2 separate regions of the Homo sapiens genome follow, and region 2 is linked to region 1. Evidence: fine-mapped expression QTL. A gene starts in region 1. The other region holds a variant in brackets. All regions are shown on one strand. Distances are between the middles of the regions.

Region 1 (9,731 bases):
TTATAAAAATTAACTCAAAATGGGTAAACAATCTAAATATGAGCTAAAATCATTACCTCATAGAAGAAACATAAGGGTAAATCTTCATAACCTTAGATTTGGCAATGGATTCTTAGATATGACATAAGCAACATCAAAATTAAAAACTTTCAACCTTTTGTGAGTGGTGGCTAGCACTAAGAGAAGCCAGGAAGGCCTGGGGCACACATCAAGAACACAAGGTGGTGGGGGTGTTGCCTGACCACCCCCAAAAGCTGCACACCAACCCTCTACCCCATGCGAATCTTTGAGCCTCTGGCACTTTGTATCTCAGCTGAAGAAGCCTTCAGTGGAAACTGTCTCCAGTGGGCAGGTGTTGGAGAACCCGCCCTCTTCAGGTGAAGAGTTTGGGCATCTGGCTGCACTATCCTCCAAGTGGCACCCAAAACCTGCACTGGGAACATGGGCCCTGACCTGGTGGACATCACCACCTGGTGACAGAGTGCCAGGCGCATTCCATCCAGATGAGGAAGATGAAGGAGACTGCGTCAGAAAGTGCTGCCAGTCAGCAATCAATTCCACCACTTCACTATCAAGTTCTTTCTGCCCCACCAGTCCTGCCATGCCAGCATGAGCCACACTTTGTTAACAAGAAACCCAATACCTTCTCTAGGTACAGAGTCCTCTCCACCCCCAAGACAGCCCAGATAAACTCCTTAGGAACAACAACAACAAAATTAAAAACTTTTGTTCATCAAAGGACATTGTCAAGAGATAAAGAGAGGCCTGGCACATTTGAGAGGCTGAGGTGGGAGGATCTCTTGAGGCCAGGAGTGCAAGACCAGCCAGGGCAACAAAGCAAGACCCTGTCTCTACAAAAAATAACAATATTGGCCAGGTGCGGTGGCTCACGCCTGTAATCCCAACACTTTGGGAGGCCGAGGAGGGCGGATCACGAGGTGAAGAGATCGAGACCATCCTGGCCAACATGGTGAAACACCGTCTCTACTAAAAATACAAAAATTAGCTGGGTGTGGTGGCACATGCCTGTAGTCCCAGCTACTCAGGAGGCTGAGGCAGGAGAATCGCTTTAACCCAGGAGGCAGAGGTTGCAGTGAGCCAAGATCGCACCACTGCACTCCAGCCTGGTGACAGAACGAGACTCTGTCTCAAAAAAACATAAATATATAAAATAACAATATTAGCTGGGCGTGGTGGTGTGCACCTGTGGTATGGTTCCAGCTACTCAGGAGGCTGAGGCAAGAGGATCACTTGAGCCTAGGAGATCAAGCCTGCGGTGAGCCATGATCACACACCACTGCACTCCAGCCTAGGGAACAGAGTAAGACCCTGTCTCAAAACAAGCAAACAAACAAAAAAAAAGAAATGAAAACCTACAAAATGGGAGAAAATATCTGCAAATCATATATCTGATTAGATTTAATATCCAGAATATATAAAGAACTCCTATAACAACAAGAAAACCCAATTTAAAAATGGGCAAATGACTCAAATGGACAGCTCTCTGAAGAAAATATACAAATGGACAAGCACCACATGAAAATATGCTCAACATCATTAGCCACTAGGGAAATGCAAATCAAAACCACAATGAGCCGTGGTGGCCCACACTTGCAGTCCCAGCCCAGGAGTTCAAGGCTGCAGTGATCTCTGATTGTGCTCATGCACTCCAGACTAGGTGGCAGAGTGAGACTCTACCTCTAAAAAATAATAATACTTTCTAAACCACAATGAGATACCACCTCATACCTATTTATTATAGTTGGCTGTAATAAATTTTTTTTAGAGATGGGGTCTTGCTATGTTGCCCAGCTGATCTTGAACTCCTAGCCTCAAGCAATCCTCCTGACTCAGCCTCCCAAAGTGGTGGGATTACAGGCATAAGCCACTACACCTCACCAAATTTTTTTGGTTGGGGAGTGGGGAGGTGGGGGAACAGGGTCTTGCTCTGTGCCCAGGCTAGAGTTCTGTGGCATGATCATAGCTCACTGCAACCTCAAGCTCCTGGGCTCAAGCAATCCTACTGTCCCAGCGTTCCAAATAGGTAGGACTACAGGCATGTGTCACCACTCCTAATTTTTTTTTTTTGGAGAGACAAAGTCTCACTATGTTGCTCAGGCTGATAATCCTCCTACTTTGGCCTCTGAAAGTGCTGGGATTACAGGAGTGAGGCATCATGACTGACCGATAGTAATTTTTTTAAAAATAGAGACAGTAAAAAAAAAAAATAGAGACAGACCTGTAATCTCAACACTATGGGAGGCTGAGGCAGCAGGATCGCTTGAGGCCAGGACTTCGAGACCAGCCTGGGCAACACAGCAAGATCCTGTCTCTACAAAAAACAGAAAAAATTAGCCTAGCCTGGTTGTGCATGCCCATTGTCCCAGCTACTCAGGAGCGTGAGCTGAGAGGATCACTTGAGCCCCGGAGGTTGAGGCTGCAGTGAGCTGTGATCACACTACTGCACTCCAACCTGACACCTTGTCTCAAAAACAAACAAACAAAAAAGGTGCGGTCACTGTGGGAATTTATCACTTCCTGAAAAAGCTAGACAGAATTCCCATATAACTCAGAAATTACACTCCCAGGTATACAGGCAAAAGAATTATAAACAGGTGTAACCACAGGACCAGTTGAATCTGATTCAGTTTTTTTTTTTTTTTTTTTTTTTGAGATGGAGTTTTGTTCTTCTTGCCCAGGTTGGAGTGCAAAGGAGCGGTTTTGGCTCACTGCAACCTCCGGCTCCCGAGTTCAAACGATTCTCCTGCCTCAGCCTCCCAAGTAGCTGGGATTACAGGCACCCACCACCAGCCTGGCTAATTTTTTTGTATTTTTAGTAGAGATGGGGGTTTCGCCCTGCTGGCCAGGCTGGTCTTGAACTCCTGACCTCGGGTGATCCACCCACCTCAGTCTCCCACAGTGCTGGGATTACAGGTGTGAGCCATTGTGCCCAGCCTGGTTCAACTTTTATCAGTAACAAAATGATGAGTTGTTTTTCAGTTACAATAGATCCCCAGGCTGCAAGTCACGTAACCTAAGTATGCCCAGATGAACAAAGTGTGCCTGATAGCTGACCCTGGTGTCGGTGGGAACACAAAAGTCAACCACAGGCAGGACTTAACCACTCAAATGGAGGAATGGACACCAAATTAGGAAGCATGGGGCGCCTTGTTTTGCTGCAATATGAACTTAAAAGCCAAAGATCCAGCATTGCCCCTTTGCATGACCCAAACAGATCACACCTTGTTGTATTTTCCCATCTCCCTCATAGTTGCCTTCTGCCTATAAAACCTGCCCCCAGATTCCATCTTGGGGAGACAAATTTGAGTATTGCCTCTGGTTTCCCTGCTGGTCGACCTTACGATAAAGCCTTTTCTCAAAAGGTGATGACATAGTATTGGCTTCTATGTGCATCTAGCAGTGAGCCCACTGCTTGGTACCACAATGGGCTCAAACATTTATAAGCCAATGTTCATTGCAACATTATTCAAAACAGCAAAAAAGCAGAAATAACCAAGTGTCCATCAATAGATGAATAAATAAACAAAATGTGGTATATACATACAATGGAATATTATTCAGCCATAAAAAGAAATGAAGTTCTGGCCAGGCATGGGGGCTCATGCCTGTAATCCCAGCACTTTGGGAGGTCGAGGTGGGTGGATCACTTGAGGTCAAGAGTTCAAGACCAGCCTGGCCAACATGGTGAAACCCCATCGCTACTAAAAATACAAAATAAGCTGGGCGTAGTGGCGGGCGCTTATAATCCCAGCTACTTGAGAGGCTGAGGCAGGAGAATTGCTTGAATCTACAAGGCAGAGGTTGCAGTGAGCCGAGATGACACCACTGCACTCCAGCCTGGGCAACAAGAACGAAACACCATCTCAAAAATAAAAAAAGAAAGAAAGAAAAAGAAAAAAATATTAGCCAGGCATGGTGGAGCGTGCCAGTAGTCCCAGCTACTTGGGAGGCTGAGGCATCAGAATCACTTGAACCTGGGTGGCAGAGATTGCAGTGAGCTGAGATGGCACCACTGCCCTCCAGCCTGAAACCGAGGGAGATCCTGTCTCAAAAAAAAAAAAAAGAAATGAAGTTCTGACCCATGCTACAACACAGATAAACCTTGACAACCTCATGCTCAATGAAATAAGGTGGACACAAAAGGACATATACATTATGATTTCACCCACATAAAGTAATTGAGTAATCAAATGTATAGAGACCGTATAATAGAGGTTACCAAAGGAGAGAAGGACAGGAGGAGAAGGGGAAATAGGAAGTTATTGCTTAATGGTTACAGAGTTGCTGTTTCAGGTGATGAAAAAGTTTTGGAAATTGAGTGGTGACGGTTGCATAATATTGTGAATGTAATTAATGCCACTGAGTTATACACCTAAAAATGGTTAAAATGGCATTAAAAAAAAAAAGACAGTATCTTGCTCTCTGGCCCAGGCTGGAGTGCAGTGGTACAATCATAGCTCACTGCAGCCTCAATCTCTCAGGCTCAAGAGATCCTCCTGCCTCAGCCTCCCAATTAGCTGAGACTACAGGTGAGTGCCACTACACCTGGCTAATTTTCTTGATTTTTTAGTAGAAATGAGATCTTGCTCTGTTCCCCAGGCTGATCTGGAACTCCTGAGCTCAAGCGATCCTCCCGCCTCCACCTCCCGAAGTGCTGGGATTACAAGCGTGAGCCACTGCACCCAGCTGCAAATGTTTAGTACATACATTTTTACCGTAATTTATTTAAAAAAAAAAAAGGAAAAAAGAATACAGAAGTTTGTTCCTTGGTCTCTTCACCTCTTCCAGTCTCTAGATCCTTGTCACATACATTACCCTAACTTTGTTCTATAATAAGCACTTATACGCCCCCTTTTTTTGTTTGTTTTTTGAGACGGATTTTCGCTCTTGTTGCCCAGGCTGGAGTGCAATGGCACGATCTCGGCACACCGCAACCTCCGTCTCCCGGGTTCTAGCGACTCTCCTGCCTCAGCCTCCCGAGTAGCTGGGATCGCCACCACGCCCAGCTAATTTTTGTATTTTTAGTAGAGACGGGGTTTCCCCATGTTGGTCAAGCTGGTCTCGAACTCCTGACCTCAAGTGATCCGCCCGCTTCGGCCTCCCAAAGTACTGGGATTACAGGCGTGAGCCACCGCGCCCGGCCTTTCCCCAAATTTTAATACTTTAAAATAGGGAACATCTTACAATCAACAGGTTGTGACAGGTTAATTAGCCACGTTTTATCTTTGATAGGTAGCTCTAAAGTCAAGAAAACCCAGGCAAGATCCCGGGCAAGATCCCAGCACTGCCAACTGTCATTTGTAGACCGGGGATAGGAACACCTGTCTCACAGATTGTTACACAATAGCGCCGGTGAAGCGCTTGTCACAAAGCCTGACCCAGGACAATCTCAAAAACGGAGATTCTGTTATTCAAATTGTTTATTTTTGTGCGCTAAGTTTCACATCAACCCAACTATCTCTTGATAGGTTCCTACCAGGCGCTAGAGATATCTTACTTTCAGAAATTATTTATGATAGCAGAAGCCGCTGGAAGTCCATAGACAACCTCATCTCTCTAGCGGAGCAAACAGCTGGGCTCCAGCTGGCCCTGGCTTCTGCAACTGCGCAGTCGGCGCTGTGACGCCCGGCGCGGCTCTGTGACGTCACGAATCGGTCCTCTGTAAGAGGGGAGGGCATTCTTCTCCAGGGGAGGGCTACGTGTTGACGCCATACGCCGGGGCGGGGCCGAGAGTTTGGAGCCCCGGAGTGGGGTGTCGGCGCCTCATTCGGGTGGAGCTGAGCCGGAGACAGGTAACCGTGCGCTGTCGCCGCGCCCGTCCCAGTGCCGGGTGTCGCGGCGCTTGGCGGCCCGGGGTTGGAGATCGCGGTAAAGGGGGAGGCCGCCGCGCCCTTGGTGCTGCGGGCGCCGCGGTGACAGGGGAGTGGAGCTGGATGGAGTGGGGCTCACGGAGGGTGGTAGGAGGGACGGGACCTGATGGATGGCCGTGGCAGCCAATGGAGCCGCGGGGCCTGCCCGGCGGGCGGAGATTGGCGGGTACGGGCGGGCTCCGAGGTCGCGCGGGGCGCGGAGCGACGCGCCATTGGCGGTGGGCGAGCGGGGGGCGGGCGCGGCGGCGGATGTGAGGGAGAGGGCGGTGCGTCCGCAGGGGTGACCCCCAAGGTCGCCGCGGGCGTCACGTGGTTAGGCCGCTCTCCGACGGCGTCCTTCCCGACCGGGACGCACTCTCCTTCCCGCCTGTGAGGACCGCGTCGCTTTGTCCGAAAGACAGTGTGGCCTGCTCGAGTTGCGTCGGAGCATCTGGCTTTGGGGTGGCCCTGGGTGGGACTGCCTGTTTGGATTACCGCGCAGACCTTGGCGCCGCCCCCACACCTGCTGCCAGAAGTTGGGTCGAACAGATTGACCGAGATGAAGCTTATTTCTCGTAGAAACATCTTTCAAGCACCATTTTCCCTCGAAAATATATCAGACATTGGATATGAGTTGTAATCTACTGAGATTTAATAGAAAACTTGCCGCGCCCTCGCCCTGACCTGGGTGCGTCCCACCTGCCATCCCCATCCCTTTGCCCAGAACATAGGACTTCGTGTTAGGGTTTCCTTGTGCCTTGTCTTGCAGTCCGTACTTTGAGGCTGATTTCCAGGTACACTGCTCTGAACAGCTGGGTTTAGGATGGGTGGCATGGGATAAAGCCTTTTTTTGTAAGGCAGCACTAGTTGCAACAGTCAAACTGTACTTTGCCGTGTAGACCTAGGAGAGTATGTAACACTATTGTAGTTTTGTAAATTAGCTGAGGACTGGATCTTGGGAAGTTGAATAAAGATCACTGTATGCTCATTTTTTGTTGTTGTTGTCTTGTTTGAGATGGAGTCTCTGTCGCCCAGGCTGGAGTGCTGTGGCGCGATCTCGGCTCACTGCAACCTCTGCCTTCCTGGGTTCAAGTGATTCTCCTGCCTCAGCCTCCCAAGTAGCTGATATTACAGGCACGCGCCATCACGCCCGGCTAATTTTTGTATTTTTAGTAGAGACGGGTTTTCACCACCTTGGCCAGGCTATTCTCGAACTCCTGACCTCAGGTGATCCGCCCGCCTCGGCCCCCAAAGTGCTGGGATTACAGGCGTGAGCCACTGCGCCCGGCCCCTCATTATTTTTTTTAAGCGCACTTTTCACATTTCAGTTACTTTTTCCCTTTAAATAACATCTTTATTGAGATAAAATTCACATACCATACGATTCACCCATTTGACGTGCACAATTTCGGCCAGTCGTGGTGGCTCACGTTTGTAATCCCCACACTTTGGGAGTGTGAAAGGAAGATCCCTTGAGCTCAGTTCAAGGAGACCAGCCTGAGCAACCAAAGTGATACCCGGCGTCTACAAAAAATAAAATTATCCGGATATGGTGGCATATACCACATATACTTGTAGTCGCAACTACTCAGGAGGCTGAGGCGGGAGGATGGCATGAGCCAGGGAGGTCCAAGCTGCAGTGAGCCATTATTGCCCCACTGCACTCTAGCCTGGGTGACACAGTGAGATCCTGTCTCAAAAAAAAAGGCCGGGCGCAGTGGCTCACGCCTGTAATCCTAGCACTTTGGGAGGCCGAGGTGGGTGGATCCCCTGAGGTTGGGAGTTTGAGACCAGCCTGGCCAACATGGTGAAACCCTGTCTCTACTAAAAATACAAAAGTTAGCAGGGCATGGTGGCGTGGGCCTGTAGTCTCAGCTACAGGCTGAGCTCCTCCAGCCTCAGCAGGAGGCTGAGGCAGGAGAATCGCTTGAACGCAGGAGGCAGAGGTTGCAGCGAGTCGAGATGGCGCCACGGCACTACAGCCTGAGCGACAGAGCAAGACTCCATCTCAAAAAAAAAAGGAAAGAAAAAACTACAGTATCATCTACTTTTTAGATTTTTAGGTAATTTTTGAGATCATTGTACAAATTATTGAGAAATTCATTTTGAAAACAGTAAAATTTTAAGAAATTGTACATAAAAATTTATTCTATGCAGTCATAATAAATAGTACAGAGAGATCCTGTGTTCCTTTCCCACTTCTCTAACATTGTGCAAAACTATAGTAAATATCACAGCCAGATATTGACATTAATAAAATTCAAGATACAGAATATTCCCGTCATCACAAGGATCCCTTCCATTGCTTTTTTATAGCCACACCCACATTCCTCCCATTCCCAGTCCTTCAACTCCTGGTAACCACTAATCTGTTCTTCATTTCCCTAATTTTGGCATGTCAAGAATGCCAAATAAAAGGATTCATAGAGCCTTTTGGGATTGGTTTTTTCCAGTCAGCTTAATTCCCTGGAGAATCATCCAGGTTGTTGCGTGTTATGGGTAGTTCATTCCTTGGCCAGGCGCAGTGGCTTACGCCTGTAATCCTAGCAACTTTGGGAGGCTGAGGCAGGCAGATCGCTTGAGCCCCAGGAGTTCGAGTCTGAGGAACATAGTGAGACCTCGTCTCTACAAAAAAAAAAAAAAAAAAAAATTAGCCAGGCGCAGTGGTGTGTTCCTGTAATCCCAGCTACTCAGGAAGCTGAGGTGGGAGGATCGCTTGAGCCTAGGCTGTGGTGGCTGCGGTGAGCCGAGATCGCGCCACTGCACTCCAGCATGAGTGACAGAGTGAGACCCTGTCTCAAAAAAAAAAAAAAAAAGGTACTTCATTCCTTTTTATTGAAGCCGGGCTATTGGGCTATGGATGTACCACATTTGGTTTATTCATCCATTAAAAGACATCTTTACTGTTTCCATTCTTTGGCTATTACAAATAAAGCTGCTACAAACCTTCATGTACAGATTTTTATTTGAACATAAATTGACATTTCTCCAAGATAAATGCCCAGGAATACAATCACTAAGTCGTAGTGCGTGCTTAGTTATTAAACAAATAGCCAAACTGTTTTCCAGAGTGATTGTACTATTTTACATTCCCACCGGCACTGTATGGTCTTGTTTCTCCACATACTTGCCAGCATTTGGTGATGTTACTTTTTTTATTATAGCCATTCCAATAAATGTGTAGTAATGTCTCTTTGTGGTTGTAATTTGCATTTTTCTGATGGCTAATGATGTTGAACATCTTTTCATGTGCTTATTTGCCATCTGTCTATTCTCTCTTTTTTTGGAAGAGATGGGATCTTGCTATGTTGCCCAGGCTGGTCTTGAACTCCTGGGATCAAGTGATCCTCCTGTCTTAGCCTCCCAAAGGCTAGGATTTCAGGCATGAGCCACCATGCCTGGCCCCTGTATACTCTCGGGTGAAATGTCTGTTCATATCTTTTGTTCATTTCGTAATTAGATTGTTCGGTTTTTGTTAACTGTTGAGCTTTGAGAATTCCTAATGTATTCTAGATACCACTGCTTTGTTGGATATGTAGTTTGCAGATATTTTCTCCTAGTCAGCAGCATGTCTTTTCATCTTGGTTTTTTTTTTGTTTGTTTGTTTGTTTTGTTTTTGAGATGGAGTCTCGTTCTGTCCCCCAGGCTGGAGTGCAGTGGCGTAATCTCTACAACCTCTGCCTCCCAGGTTCAAGCGATTCTTCCGCCTCAGCCTCCTGAGTAGCTGGGATTACAGGCGCTTGCCACCACACCTGGCTAATTTTTGTATTTTTAGTAGAGACGGGGTTTCACCGTGTTGGTCAGGCTGGTCTCGAACTCCTGACCTCGCGATCTGTCCACCTCAGCCTCCCAGAGTGCTGG
Region 2 (9,731 bases), 73 kb after region 1:
ATTTTTATATTTTTAGTAGAGATGAGGTTTCACCGTGTTGGCCAGGCTGGTCTCGAACTCCTGACCTCAGCTGATCTGCCCACCTCGGCCTCCCAAGGTGCTGGGATTACAGGTGTGAGCCTCCATGCCTGGCCAGAATCCCCTCTTTTTGGTCAGGAAGAGTGACATTGCCCTTCAAGGTGGCTTGGTTCCCTGTCCAGGTTTGAGGAGTTCCTACAGCGGAAGTGGTCCTCTGAGAAGCGCTTTGGTCTAGAAGGCTGCGAGGTACTGATCCCTGCCCTCAAGACCATCATTGACAAGTCTAGTGAGAATGGCGTGGACTACGTGATCATGGGCATGCCACACAGGTACAGCCAAGGGCGCGCCCAACCTGGTTTCTCACCATCCCTGTGGGCTGTGTAGGAGGCACCAGGTAAAGGCACTGAGAGAGCAGCTGTTTCCTCCTTGAGTGCCAGTTGTGAGTCTGGGCTCATCTGGTACCTGAGGGTGTATTGCTTTGCAGGGGATTCTCACATTGCCTGCCTCTGGAGGACTGCAAAGTCATGGTCACCTCCAAAGCCACATGTAGTTTCAGACTGGCATTTGGCCTTACAGTGCATCTTTATGAAAATTAAACCCAAGTTCCCTTGTTGGGGTCTAACCTGGAGGGAAGGCTGCTTCCTGACATTGAAGGGGAGGCCAAGACTGTGAAAATAGGGAAGGTGTGGGGAGGGAGAAGGGTAAGGAAGCCTCAGGCCCATGGCATTGCTGCATCTTCTATCTTTCTGCTGCCCACTGTGGCCTTGATTGCCCAGCACGGAGAGGCTCGGTTCCCACATTAGCTCCAGTTTACAGCTATCCTTGGGCTGCAAACCGAGGAGGTGCCGTGTCCTGGGGGGAGGGGGAGGGGGGGATTGTAACACCCTCATCTGCCATCTGGAAACCATGACCTCAGGCTCTGCTCACCCTACTCGCCCATACGTTCCAGAGGGCGGCTGAACGTGCTTGCAAATGTCATCAGGAAGGAGCTGGAACAGATCTTCTGTCAATTCGATTCAAAGCTGGAGGCAGCTGATGAGGTGAGGCACCTGCATAGAGACACATCCAGCATAGCCCCAACTTACACAAGACCCCTGGCTCCACTTCTTTCTTAGAATGACTTACGGGGGGTTGGTTCTTCTGTACCATTTGTGATTTGCCTTCCTTGTTGGGAGAATTTTAGTGTTGGGACAAAGGTGGCCAGTGGCCCACCTCCTGGTCAGAGGTCCAGCAGCCCCACTCTGAGTGCAGGGGTGTGTCCCCTCTGGCTGAGGGACGTTCTCCTTATGCCCTGGATGGGAATGATCCTGGGAAAAGGCCTCCATATCCTTCTGCGTTGGGTTCCTGGGAGTAGAAATCCCATATAAGGCTGGGCATGGTGGCTCACATCCGTAACCCCAACACTTTGGGAGGCTGAGGCAGGCGGATCACGTGAGGTCGAGAGTTTGAGACCAGCCTGACCAACATGGAGAAACCCCATCTCTACTAAAAATACAAAATTAGCCGGGCGTGGTGGCGCATGCCTGTAATCCCAGCTACTCGGGAGGCTGAGGCAGGAGAATCGCTTGAACCCAGAAAGTGGAGGTTGCAGTGAGCCGAGATCGCGCCATTGCACTCCAACCTGGGCAACAAGAGCGAAACTCCATCTCAAAAAAAAAAAAAAAATTCCCGTATAAAAGGGCTCTTTTGGAGACTGAGCATCTCCTTGGCCAGGGTGCAAATTCACTGTTTACCCCATCAGGGCTCCGGAGATGTGAAGTACCACCTGGGCATGTATCACCGCAGGATCAATCGTGTCACCGACAGGAACATTACCTTGTCCTTGGTGGCCAACCCTTCCCACCTTGAGGCCGCTGACCCCGTGGTGATGGGCAAGACCAAAGCCGAACAGTTTTACTGTGGCGACACTGAAGGGAAAAAGGTAAGGCCCAGAGAGAGGCGTGCAAGGCAGATCGTCAAGGCCCCATGTTCCAGCATGGAGTTCCGCTCACCAACATAACCCAGAGCCCTGGGTGCATCTAGACTTTAAAAAAATATTTAAAGTCGGCCGGGCGCAGTGTCTCACGCCTGTAATCCCAGCACTTTGGGAGGCCGAGGTGGGCAGATCACCTGAGTTCGGGAGTTGGAGACCAGCCTGACCAACATGGAGAAACTCCATCTCTACTAAAAATACAAAATTAGCTGGGCGTGGTGGCGCGCGCCTGTAATCCCAGCTACTCAGGAGGCTGAGGCAGGAGAATCGCTTGAACCCGGGAGGTGGAGGTTGCAGTGAGCCGAGATTACGCCATTGCACTCCAGCCTGGGCCAACAAGAGCGAAACTCTGTCTCAAAGAAAAAAATAAATAAATAAAAAATATATGTATATGTATGTATGTGTGTGTGTGTGTATATATATATATATATATATATATATTTAAAATCAACTTTTAAAGAATAGCAATAGTAAAACAGTCCTGCTTACAGTGTTCCTTTTCCTGAAGTTGTAATTGTCAGAACTATGTGGGAAGTTTGCTTTTGTCTTCACCAAATCTGTTAAGGAGCCAGGTTGCAGTTATTCTGAATGGACAGAGATGTTTTCACTGAAAAGGAGGGGAGTCTGAGAGTCTCTGTAAGGAAAAAGTGTAGGTGAGCCTGAAGGAGAAATTGTAGAACTGAGACTTGTCAGGAGAGTCATGCTTGCTGTGATTAGAGGCGGGAGTTCACGGGCTGGTAGGAGACGGAGGAGGGCACAGACTGCAGGCAGGTGGGGTCCTGCTTCACCATTTCTGGTCATGTGACTGAGTGTTGGGGGTTGACTCGCCTGCCTGCTTGTGTAGAAATAGTCTCAACAGATTGTAACAATTTGCCCTTATTTAACTTCAAGATAGAATCTTGTCTGACAAATTTTATATTTCCTATTAATGATGACCTAAAAACCAAATAATCAGAAAAAAAATCAAATATTTGTAATGTCTTATGTATGGGTTCTGGGAAACATATAAAGAAGGCATCACCACTTTTCTCTCCAGAGCCTCCTGTTCTTTTTAGAAAAAAGGTCGTGTGTAAAGAAGCAAATAGCACATACACGGCATGATAGGAAACTGGAGTTAGCCGTGAAGAGCTTTGGAAGAGGTGTGCAGGGGTGTGGGCTAGAGTTGGACCAAGGATAGAAGGCACACCCCTTAGTAGCAGAGCAGGTAGTTGTCATTTTATTTGAGAAGTGGCAGGATTTAGGGAGGTGGGAAGGGAAGAATGTTTTCTGGAGATGAAAGGTAAGAGCAAAGATGTAGGGGGAATTGGGGACACAGAGCAGGGAGGGGCCGGCCTCCTAGTTGTGCCCTGGAAAGAAGTCAGGTCTATGTTAGAAGTGGAACCAATTGGCCAGGTGCGGTGGCTCACGCCTGTAATCCCAGCACTTTGGGAGGCTGAGGCGGGTGGATCACCTGAGGTCAGGAGTTCGAGACCATCCTGGCTAACACAGTGAAACCCCATCTCTACTAAAAATACAAAAAAAAAATTAGCCGGGCATGGTGGCACACGCCTGTAGTCTCAGCTACTCAGGAGGCTGAGGCAGGAGAATTGCTTGAACCTGGGAGGCGGAGGTTGCAGTGAGCTGAGATCACGCCACTGCACTCCAGCCTGGGTGACAGAGGGAGACTCCTTCTCAAAGGAAAAAAAAAAAAAAAAGAAGTGGAACCAATTATTACTTTACCAGG[C/T]TCTATAATTTTAAATACTGTAAATCTACTACTGTCATGCTTACAGTGTTAGAGGAAGGGAAACTGTCATCATAGGTAATGGAGCCTGGGCTGGGGAAGTGATTCCCGCATCGATCAATGCTCACTGTAAAGAACGAGTATGACCCACAGGGACGCAGAGGTCATTCCATGGCTTCAAGCTCATGGGCCAGGACAGTGCCACAGAAACTTCAACTAGATGCAAAGAGGCCTTAGCTCTGGGGAACCTGCAGCCCCCGCAGGCAGTAACAACACTGGGTGTCTGGGATGGCCTGGGCTAAGGTGAGATCGGCATGGGGAGATCAGCATTGTGATGACCAGTGCCTCTGGTATTTGCACCCTCCTTGGCTAGGACACTCGCCCAGGCATTTGGGCTGAGTAGTGGAATGAGATTACCGAAAACTTTGGGTGATTCCCACATTCATAGATTGTGGACAGAAATCCACTCTAGCAGTACTCACCTCATAATGCTGGAAATTTCCCAAAAAGGAATGAAATCATTAGAGTAAAAGCAATAGAGTATATTTTAAACTGCTACAGATGGTCACACTGATTGGTCCCTTCATGAGATGCCAGGACAGGAGAGGCTGGTTAGTCCCTGATTTGCTCATAAGTCTGCATGCAGCTGAGTCCGAACTGTCAGTCCCTTTGTTTTCCAGTCTACACAAACCTTGTTGTCACAAGTTTGCCCTTGCCCCAATGTGGATAGCTGCCAGGCCCTCTTTCTGAGCCTCCTCGTCACCTTGCCTCAAGCCCTCACATGTCCCCAGCAGGGTCAGTGTGGGGTCATTGCAGGCTCAGCCATCTGCCTGTTCTTCTTACTCCTCTTGACACCCATAGGACATGATTTGATTTCTATTAAATCCAGAAACTCAGGGAGCTGGAGTGTGTGTTATGTAACTCTCAGCATTTTTCGTGAAGAATTACATACTTTCTGTAAGTGCAGCTGAGGTCATCCCATAACCTCATGCATGATTGTGAAACAGACCTGATTTGGCTCAGTGCTAATATGGCCTTTGGGATCTTTGTTCATGAAAGCATTTCCTCAGTGCAGCAATGCAACCTGCTGCAAAGGGAGAACCCGCTCCTGCCAGAGGTATGGCTCAGGCTGCCAGACACAAGGAGATTCCCCATGTGTCCTGGCTGTGATTTCAGCAGACAGTTACCACAGTGCAGTATGGCATGGTAGTCGCAGTACAACATCACCAGGATGATCAAGAGCAAATACCATGACAAGAGGAAGACTGACTACAGGTGCCCTGTCAGCAGAAGACAGACTGGACAGAAAAGTATCTGCGGGAAGAAACAACACACTATCGGGATCAGGAAAGCATGAAATGTCAGTGACTCAAAACCAATGGCTTTTACACTCAGGCAGCCTGGGCATCGTAGCAAAGCTGCACACCTCCAAGGGGGCCCCGTAAGCAAACCAGATCCTTACGTCCACATGCTGCTATCCTAGTGAGCACCTGCCACATCCACCAAAAGGCAGGACACCTGCAGTTCTGTTTTTAAAAATTCTAGGTTTTGTCCCTGACACACAAATCATGGGTCTTAACCAAGGATGACTCAGCACAGCGCTGAGGACCAGGGTAATCACAAGAACTCAGGGAGGTGCAGGTCAGTAGGCCCGTAGGCTGAGGACACAGCAGGAGAGGGTGTGTTGTATATCACCTTGGCTAGCCACAGCGTCCAGGTTTTTTTTGCTAAACACCCATCTAGATGGCATTTTGTAAAGATAAGATTAACGTTTAAACCAGTAGATTTTGAGTAAAGTAGAAGACCTTGCACAATGTGAGTGGGTTTCATCCAGTCAGTTCAAGGCCTTCGAGAAAAAACTGAGGTTCCCAGAAAAGAAGGAATTCTGCCTCCAGACAGCCTTCACACTTAAGCTGCAACATCAGCTCTGCTGTGGGTCTCCAGCCTGCCAGCCCGCCCTGCAGACTTTGCACTTGCCAGCCTGATTCCTTAAAAACCCATCTTTCTCGGCCAGGCACGATGACTCATGCCTGTAATCCCAGCACTTTGGGAGGCTGAGGCAAGAGGAGTGCTTGAACCCAGGAGTTTGAGACCAGCATGACCAACATGGTGAAACCTCGTGTCTACAAAAAAATGCCAAAATTAGCCAGGCATGGTGGCATGTACTTGTATTCCCTGCTACTTGTGTGACTGAGGTGGGAAAATCACTTGAGCTTGGGAGGCAGAGGTTGCAGTGAGCTGAGATCGTGCCACTGCACTCCAGCCTGGGTGAAAGAGTGAGACCCTGCCTCAAAAAAAAAGAAAAAGAAGAAAAGAAAGAAAGAAAATCATTCTCTCTCTCCCTCTTCCTCTTCACCCTCTCAGTTCTGTCTCTCTGGAGAGCTCTGACTAATACAAGGGTTTTAAAGAGGTATAGGCTGTGTATCCAAGGAGTAGAGGTGGTGGGCTTACATGATTGTGGCATTGGGGACACTGAGCAAATGAGTAAACATATCAAAGGCAGTGAGGATGGAGTGTCTTGCAGTTGTAGGAGATATTTATAGGTGTGGAAGGAGGTGGCCTAGAAAGTGTTGGATTAAAATTTGGAGGTATCAATACAAACTCATAGTTTTATTGCATACACACACACACACACACACACACACACACACACAGAAATAGCCATGTATATGTGCGCCTGCATATGCACACATGTATTTTTTAGATGTATGCGGAATGGGCCTAGAAATGATGATATCCTGGCAGTGATGAGCACACAAATACTGGTCTTAAATCCCATCCTCTACTGGAGGAAGCTGGCTTCTTAGAGAAACAGCTGATATTGTCCAGGGCTGGACAGGGACAGTACAACATGGAAGCTACAATGTTCTGTTGGTCAGGAAGCAAGGAGGTGCTCATGAATGAAAGAGACCTGTCCCTGTTCACAGGAAAGGGAGGCAGCTGGACAGAGCTGCTCTCCCTATCAACCTGGAACAGTGTGAGCATTAAAATAACTAACAATATTAATGCAACCTGTCGAATAAAATAGGAACCATGAGTACATACTAACACGAGTAAATAAACAAGGGAGAAGGGAAAGCTCTTCCTTGCAGAGAATGCCAACTAATAAATTTAGGAGTAATCGAAACTGGTGTTTGCCATCCATCAACCACCCAAGGGGCTGGTTCAGACGCAGTTGTCAATACTGCTGAGGCTGGGGTGGAGGTTTGAGGAGGAACAGGATGTAAAGTTTCTTCTCACAAAATACTACCACTATACTCATTGCCAAGGAAAACAATGGTGAGTGAAAGGGAGGATAGCAGACAGCAGCCTCCCAGGTGAGCAGAGTTAACCTGACCTGATGCAGTATGTCCTTCCCAAGTGGGGACCCAAGGTCTGTCAAGGGTGCAAAGACAAGAAGGATGAGGAGCTGCTCCTGGTTGGAGGAGCCAAAGAGACCTGGCAAGTGATGCTGCCCTCCCATGTGGGGTCTGGGGCCAATGGCTAAGCTAGTGCTGCCCTCCCGGAACAGAGGGTCCGGGTAGTCATGTTGGAGAGTGTCCTAGCAATGCATCAGGTCTACAGCTCTTTCAGTGCTGAGAACAGATGATGATGGCAGGGTGTGTTGGTGTTGAGCAGATATACCAAGGTGCTAGCATGTTGGGGATTTGGGGCCCTGTGGACTTTCCTGCTACTTTCTATGTTTGAAATTATCTCAAAACGTTATTTTTTGAAAAACAAATGATGCATTTCCTCTGTTTACCTTGTGGACTTGGCAATCAGAACATTCTGGATTTGGGGTCTCCTTTGGTGTTTACAGGTCATGTCCATCCTGTTGCATGGGGATGCTGCATTTGCTGGCCAGGGCATTGTGTACGAGACCTTCCACCTCAGCGACCTGCCATCCTACACAACTCATGGCACCGTGCACGTGGTCGTCAACAACCAGGTACCTCACACCAGCCTGCGGCTTTGCTGCTCACATCAGTCTTACTTAGAATGACATCTCTGAGTCATTTAGGACGTTCACTGTTTTCTGATTATAAAAATACATCTGTTATTAAAAACCAGGTGCAGTGGCTCACGCCTGTAATCGTAGCACTTTGGGAAGCCAAGGCAGGAGGATTGCTTCAGCCCATGAGTTTGAGACCAGTCTGGGCAATATAGTGAGACCCCCTTTCTCTGCAAAAAAATTGAAAAATTAGCACTGGGTGGCCGGGTGCAGTGGCTCAGTCCTGTAATCCCAGCACTTTGGGAGGCCGAGGCAGGTGGATCACCTGAGGTCAGGAGTTCAAGCCTGGCCAATGTGGTGAAACCCCGTCTCTGCTAAAAATACAAAATTAGCCATGGGATCACATGCCTGTGATCCCAGCTGCTTGGAAGGCTGAGGCAGGAGAATTGCTTGAACCCGAGAGGTGAAGGTTACAGTGAGCCAAGATTGCGCCATTGCATTCCAGCCTGGACAACAAGAGCGAAACTCCATTTCAAAAAAAAAAAAGAAAAGAAAAAAAGTTAGCACCGGGCATGGTGGCCCACAAATGTAATCCCAGCACTTTGGGAGGCCAAGGTGGGCAGATCACTTGAGGCCAGGAGTTCGAGACCAGCCTGGCCAACATGGAGAAACCTCATCTCTACTAAAAATACAAAGCTACCTGCTTGGTGGCGCGCACTTGTAATCCCAGCTGCTTGGGAGGCTGAGGCACAAGAATCACTTGAAACCCTTGAGGCGGAGGTTACCGTGAGCCAAGATCACACCACTAAGCCTGGGCGACAGAGCAGGAGTCTGTCTAAAAAAAAAATTAAAAAAATTAGGCATGGTGGTGCATGCCTGTGGTCCTAGCTACTTGGGGGTTTGAGATAGGAGGATCACTTGAACCTGGGAGGTCGAGGCTGCAGTGAGCCATGATTATGCCACTGCACTCTAGTCTGGGCAACAGAGTGAGACCCTGTCTTGAAAAAAATAAATAGGCTGGGCGTGGTGGCTCACACCTGTAATCCCAGCACTTTGGGCGGCCGAGGCAGACGGATCATGAGGTCAAGAGATCGAGACCATCCTGGCTACCACAGTGAAACCCCGTCTCTACTAAAAATACAAAAAAATTAGGCGGGTGTGGTGGCGGGCACCTATAGTCCCAGCTACTTGGGAGGCTGAGGCAGGAGAATGGCGTGAACCCGGGAGGTGGAGCTCACAGTGAGCTGAGATCACGCCACTGCACTCCAGCCTGGATGACAGAGCAAGACTCTGTCTCAAAATAAATAAGTAAATAAATAAATAAAAAAGAAAAAAATAGATTTTAATACATTATTTTTAAGATGGCATTATTGTTTTAGATTTTTGTTTGTTTGTTTGAGACCAGTCTTGCCCCATAGCTCACGCTGGAGTGTAGGGGCATGATGATAGCTCATTGCAGCCTTGAACTCATGGACTCAAGCATCTTCCTGCCTCAGCCTCCCGAGTAGCAAGGACTATAGACGTGCACCACCACTCCTGACTAATTTTTTTTTATTTTGTGTAGAGGCGGGATGTCACTCTGTTACCGAGGCTGCTCTTGAACTCCTGGCTTCAAGTGATCCTCCCATCTTGGTCTCCCAAAGCACTGGGATTGTAGGTGTGATCCACCATGCCCGACAAGAATATTTTCTTCTGGTTCCACAGGCATACAGATGGCCTGTGCATGGGGACGTTCTCTTTCTTTAAGAAACTGGGTTCCATGTACACAGCTTTATATCCACTCTTATTTACCACATATTTGCTCATATCATTACGTACCCTTTTAAAATAATTTTAATAGAAATATCTTATAACTTGTTTCATAAAATGGACTCTTAGGATTCTCATTTTTTATTTTCAGTAAGGCTGTGATGAACATTCTCATGAATATTTCTGCACAGGCCTGATACATATCACCTGTTAGATTCTTCCACCAGCCGTAGCTAAGGGTTCCCCTCATCGATGCGTGTGAAGTTTCCATAACAGATATTCTAGTGCCTTTTAACTCTAGGCACTCTCCTAGGTACCAGGCAGAGCACCGGTGTGCTCCC

Alleles and levels. Alleles are on the strand shown, and positions count from the first base shown. SD is a standard deviation of normalised expression in the study named.
For the expression in testis of the gene that starts at base 5,787 in region 1, allele C in region 2 goes with a lower level than allele T (small effect, 0.37 SD a copy in GTEx).

Evidence for each region.
Region 2: its variant is fine-mapped to the expression of OGDH in testis (GTEx, PIP above 0.99).

Annotation. Positions count from the first base shown.
Region 1 is chr7:44,600,841-44,610,571 of GRCh38, forward strand. It overlaps OGDH (oxoglutarate dehydrogenase), which reads left to right and starts at 5,787. Exons shown (of 23, transcript NM_002541.4): 1 at 5,787-5,813. RefSeq lists enhancers at 5,347-5,946, 6,198-6,761, 6,437-6,776 and a silencer at 5,987-6,216.
Region 2 is chr7:44,674,211-44,683,941 of GRCh38, forward strand. OGDH (oxoglutarate dehydrogenase) reads left to right here. Exons shown (of 23, transcript NM_002541.4): 7 at 201-347; 8 at 968-1,058; 9 at 1,760-1,939; 10 at 7,510-7,638. Among named protein-coding and RNA genes, the nearest start is that of ZMIZ2, 70 kb to the right of the region's middle. RefSeq lists a silencer at 3,936-4,149. The variant C/T (reference allele first, on the strand shown) is at 3,714.